Linked DNA regions of Homo sapiens: region 2 is linked to region 1. Evidence: fine-mapped expression QTL. A gene starts in region 1. The other region holds a variant in brackets. All regions are shown on one strand. Distances are between the middles of the regions.

Region 1 (2,916 bases):
ACGGAGTCTCGGTCTGTCACCAGGCTGGAGTGCAGTGGCACAATTTCGGTTCACTGCAACCTCTGCCTCCTGGGTTCAAGTGATTCTCCTGCCTCAGCCTCCCAAGTAGCTGGGACTACAGGTGCACGCCACCAAGCCCAGCTAATTGTTTTGTACTTTTAGTAGAGACCGGGTGGTGTCATCATATTGGCCAGGATGGTCTCCATCTCCTGACCTTGTAATCCACCTGCCTCAGCCTCCCAAAGTGCTGGGATTACAGGCGTGAGCCACCGTGCCCAGCCATTTTGGATCATTCTTGCTGCTGCTACATCTGCTTTAGTTTTTGGGGAGTGGACGGGATGTGGATAAGATGAAAGTGGGGAAGAAAGTAAGAGCATTTCACAGGAAATTGATTAAGTATCAAGACAATAATATTGCTCCCTACAGAGTCAATGGGGAGAGGATGCAGCAAGCCATAGAGGTGGCCCTATTGCCTAGAGAAGAGAGAGCACTGGACCCAGGAAAGCCACACTCATTGATGTGGCTGTGCGTCTTCTGCTTCCCAGCCTCAGGTGTTATCCGAAAAAGATGGGCCTGGTTAACATTGCCAAGAGCACTTCTTACCCTAACATTCTGTAACTCTATAAAGTCTGGCATGCATTAAAATTCTTCTGATTCAATAGTTTGGAAAAACATTTGTTGCTAGACTATTTGGCCTATCTCAATTCCTTGGCAGGGAGTAAGGCACAGTTAGCATGTGCTTTAATCCATTCTTGTCTTGTAATTCTGAGAAAGCCCTTTGAGTTTCAGATTTACAAGTTATAATATTTGCATTGCTTCGTTGTTATGACAGCTTCGTCTTAGATCATCCCTCATCCTCCCCATCCCCTGCCCCCACCACCACCATTCAATATGGTATAATATGCAAAGGTTTCAGTCTTTAAAATATGAGTATGTCCCACTCCCAAACCACTAAACTGTAGGTCAGAAGACCCTGTGAGGCCACCAACTAGCTGTGCACCTTGAACAAATTAATTTGCCTATGTTTTTTCATTTCTTCCTCTGTAAAACAAGCGTTGAATGATTGGAGAGGTCCCTTACAGCTGTGGAAGTCAGTGATTTATATGCATTTAGTAGCTACGCCTGGTCTAAAGAAGGCCATTTGCATGGATTCTAATTCAGCTAGATTTGAATTCTGCCAGTTATCCCTCTTCTCTGTCTATAGAGCTCTAAAGAAAACAAGACCGCTGTGTGTTTTGTGTGTGGCTGAAAGCACACACAAAAGAGGTACTGGAAAGATGTCAGCTGTCTCAGGCTTTAGCTGTTTCATAGAAACAATTCCCTAGAAGTCAGAGCCCCCAAATTCTATAGGAATATCATTTCCTGGAGAATATCTGCACATTCCATGCAGGTTCCCTGCTGCACACCTGCAATCGTGGTACAGGTCTCTCGGGCTGTTCTATTAAGTGCCTGCTCTTAACAAATTCCCCTTTGAGAATCGCTCACCAACCGGAGACCGGTTCCAGTGCTTTTGTTCTTTCTCTGCTTCTGGAGGCATGCTGAAGCATCCGCGCATCTCAGACTGGTGCTCACAGACATCAGGAACACATGCTTTTTCCTGGTTGCTAGGAAACAGTGAATGAATTAAAATCATTTGTTTTAAAAATACACTCCCCTACGCCCACCCCCATTAAGGGTTGAGGGAGGGTGGAAAGTCATATATTTGGGACAGGATTGTGATCCTGGCCTGAAGTTCACGTGTCTTTTTACCTGAGTAGGCTTATGTTTCCCATCTAAATGATTAATTGAAAAACCAAGAGGATGGGAGGAGTTTACCTTCCCCAGAGTTTTTTATAGCATTTGGCTGCAGACATAGGAATCAATTGACTAAGCAAGGATTGCTGGGGAAGCTAGTGAAACTCTGGCTCCTACATAGTTAGGGTGCCCCAAAGTACCCAATGACCCAAAGATCATTCTACTCGATGAATGTCAATACAAAACAGTGGCAATCCTGAAGAAACATCACCTGGGTTCAAGCTAGCACCATCTTTCTAATTATAGATGAGATCCCTTTCATGTGCGTCTGTGTGAAGAGACCACCAAACAGGCTTTGTGTGAGCAACATGGCTGTTTATTTCAACTGGGTGCAGGCGGGCTGAGTCCGAAAAGAGAGTCAGCAAAGGGTGGTGGATTATCATTAGTTCTTATAGGTTTTGGGATAGGCGGTGGAGTTAGGAGCAATGTTTTGTGGGCAGGGGGTGGATCTCACAAACTACATGCTCAAGGGTGGGGAGAATTACAAAGAACCTTCTTAAAGGTGGGGGAGATTACAAAGTACCTGCTTAAGCGGGGGGAGATTACAAAGCACATTGATCAGTTAGGGTGGGGAAGAAACAAATCACAATGGTGGAATGTCATCACTTAAGACTATTTTTACTTCTTTTGTGGATCTTCAGTTACTTTAGGCCATCTGGATGTATATGTGCAAGTCACAGGGGATGTGATGGCTTGGCTTGGGCTCAGAGGCCTGACAATCCCTGCCCACACGCCTGCCTCCTAGTCTTAAACACTTGCTCCCTTGCTTAAAGCTTGTTAATGGTTTCTGTCTGTGTCTCCTCTATACCACTAGACTAGGGGCAGAGTTTGTTCTTCTGGCCCATCTACGGCTGGGTGTCTGTTATTGACACCTCTTAATCTTTATTTCCACTCCTTTCCACTGGCCAAGTAAGTCACTTGATTACCTGAGGTCATATTATGAAAGACACTAACAAAACCCTAGATATAGAATTTTCTAAACTAGTTGTTCACTCCATATTGAGTTTATATTGTACCTAGACACTTCCGGGTTTGGTGAGCCTGAAGTTTATACATTATGGGGACCGTCTTTAATAAAAAGAATGCAGAATTGTAAATATGAAACTAATACAAAATTGTATG
Region 2 (2,916 bases), 22 kb before region 1:
AGGCTGGAGTGCATGCAGTGGCGGGATCTCGGCTCACTGCAAGCTCCGCCTCCTGGGTTCATGCCATTCTCCTGCCTCAGCCTCCAAGTAGCTGGGACTACAGGCGCCACCACGCCCAACTAATTTTTTCTATTTTTTAGTAGAGATGGGGTTTCACCATGTTAGCCAGGATGGTCTTGATCTCCTGACCTCGTGATCCGCCCGCCTCGGCTTCCCAAAGTGCTGGGATTACAGGCGTGAGCCACCATGCCTGGCCTGTCCTGACACTTTTCTAAGCCTTTACACATATAACTTATTTAATGCTTATAACAACCCTATGAGGTAGGTACTATTATGACTTTTTAAAGAGATGAAAAACTAAAAGCACAGAGAGATTAGGTAACTCACTCAAGTTATTAAGTGGGTAGCCTGGATTCAAGAAGTATGCTGTATTCTAGCTCTTTAGTATGGTCGTGTTCATTCCAAATTTACTTCCTAGTAATGTGCCCACTACTGACGCTTTCCTAGGACAATGCAATTTAAAAAAAAAATCTTTAAAACTGTTTCCTAGCCGGGCGCGGTGGCTCATGCCTGTAATTCCAGCACTTTGGGAGGCTGAGGTGGGTGGATCACGAGGTCAGGAGTTCAAGACCAGGCTGACCAACATGGTGAAACCTCATCTTTACTAAAAATACAAAAATTAGCCAGGTGTGGTGGTGCACACCTGTAATCCCAGCTACTCAGGAGACTGAGACAGGAGAATCGCTTAAACCCGGGAAGCAGAGGTTGCAGTGAGCCGAGATAACACCACTGCACTCCAGCCTGGGCAACAAAGCAAGACTCTGTCTCAAAAAAAACAAAAAACAAACAAACAAAAAACTGTTTCCCAGAACACTGAGGGTTTTGTTTGTTTGTTTGTTCTGAGACAGAGTCTCGCTCTGTTGCCCAGGCTGGAGTGCGCTGGTGCAATCTCGGCTTAGTACAACCTCTGCCTCCTGGGTTCAAGCAATTCTCATGCCTCAGTCTCCCTAGTAGCTGGGATTATAGGCGTGCACCACCACACCCAGCTAATTTTTGTATTTTTAGTAGAGATGGGGTTTGCCATGTTGTTCAGGCTGGTCTTGAATGCCTGACCTCAAGTAATCTGCTCTCCTTGGCCTCCCAAAGTGCTGGAATTATAGGCATGAGCCATCGTGCCTGGCTGTGATTTTTTTTTTTTTAATAATTTCCTCTTTTCTCTTACTCTATGAAGAAATTCGGTGGCTGGAAATAAATAAAAAATTCTGAATAAGGCATTGTTTTATCTTGAGGTTAAAAAAATTGTTCTTCAGCTAAAAGACATATAATATCTGCAAGCCAAAAAGGAAAAACAGTAAGCTCAAATATTTAAAATGAAAATCTTCTTCAAATACCAAGCTGTGAAAGCATGTTTTTCATCCATTTAATAAAATACTTATTCCTTTAATATAGAAAGAATTCTAACAAACCAGTGAGACATACATATATGTATGTTTATATGTATATGTGTAGCAAATAATTAAATACCATAAGAAATATTAACAGTGGTTATTTCTGAAAAGTGGGACAGGGGTGTGAAGAAGAGGGAGTTCTTTTGCTTTTCATTTTATATTTTTTGTCTGGCTTGAAAATTTTACTTATAAGTGTGTACACTATTAAAATTTTTAAAACTAGTTTAAAAGATACATTACCCAAGAGTTGGGCCGGGCGCGGTGGCTCAAGC[C/T]TGTAATCCCAGCGCTTTGGGAGGCCAAGGCGGGCAGATCGCGAGGTCAGGAGATCGAGACCACGGTGAAACCCCGTCTCTACTAAAAATACAAAAAATTAGCCGGGCGTGGTGGCGGGCGCCTGTAGTCCCAGCTACTCGGGAGGCTGAGGCAGGAGAATGGCGTGAACCCGGGAGGCGGAGCTTGCAGTGAGCCAAGATTGCGCCACTGCACTCCAGCCTGGGCGACAGAGCAAGACTCCGTCTCAAAAAAAAAAAAAAAAAAGAGTTGGAAAAAATGCCTAAAGTGCACAAATAATAAAGTGTGAAAGAAAAAACACAAACGAGTTTTCTGTCGCTTGATTATTAAGAAAGGGCTTTTCTGGAAGGGATTCATCTCAGGACCTGGGGCCCTACTAAAACATGGGCATTTGTTCTTTCGACACTCCTGGGCTCGCAAGCATCAATCAGCCTATAGAAAGGTCTGGTCCCCAGAACTGAGCCTTTGATCACTATAGACAGGGCACAGAGATTTGAGAACCGTCACCTAAGGACTATTCGCTTACTACCTACTGCCAATTCACTAAATAAAAATTGTTACTGAATCTCTGCTGCCTGCGAAGTACTTTATATACATGTGAGAAATACTAAGGAAATAAAAGATATGCTTCCATCAAGAATCAAAAAATCTTCATTGGTTGTGGAAGAAAATATATATGGAACAAAATTATATTTAAAAATAAGATACCAATGAGTAATCTTTAGAGGTAGGTTTTCCTTACATAGGGTCCATTGATGAGGCTTGCGGGGGGTGTCTATAAACCCCTGTTTCAGAGATCTTTTTGTGTGTGTGTGTGATTAAGTTTAAAGTCTAGATTGTGTGTGTGTGTGTGTGTGTGTGTGATTTTTGGAGTTGTTACTGTTTTTTCATTGTTGTTTTGTTTTGCTCTCTAAAACTTGCTGCTTCCAAACACGTATAAAAAATGACCTCATTTTTCAAATTCTTCAAAAAATTCTTCAGAAACAAAGATATGGTTCTAGAAAGTCTAATACCTTCGGCCGGGCACAGTGGCTCACGCCTGTAATCCCAGCACTTTGGGGGGCTGAGGCAGGAGTTTGAGACCAGCCTGGACAACATGGTGAAACCCCACCTCTACTGAAAATACAAAAATTAGCCGGGTGTGGTGGTGCATACCTGTAATCCCAGCTACTCGGGA

Direction of the effects. Positions count from the first base shown, and alleles are read on the strand shown. Sizes are in standard deviations (SD) of each study's normalised expression.
For the expression in cerebral cortex of the gene that starts at base 1,563 in region 1, allele T in region 2 goes with a lower level than allele C (small effect, 0.35 SD a copy in GTEx).

Evidence for each region.
Region 2: its variant is fine-mapped to the expression of C2orf80 in cerebral cortex (GTEx, PIP 0.97). The same link has a PIP of 0.9 or more in prefrontal cortex.

Annotation. Positions count from the first base shown.
Region 1 is chr2:208,188,468-208,191,383 of GRCh38, forward strand. C2orf80 (chromosome 2 open reading frame 80) reads right to left here and starts at 1,563. Exons shown (of 9, transcript NM_001099334.3): 1 at 1,486-1,563.
Region 2 is chr2:208,166,694-208,169,609 of GRCh38, forward strand. The region is part of intron 8 of C2orf80 (chromosome 2 open reading frame 80); the gene reads right to left. Among named protein-coding and RNA genes, the nearest start is that of CRYGA, 4.6 kb to the left of the region's middle. The variant C/T (reference allele first, on the strand shown) is at 1,721.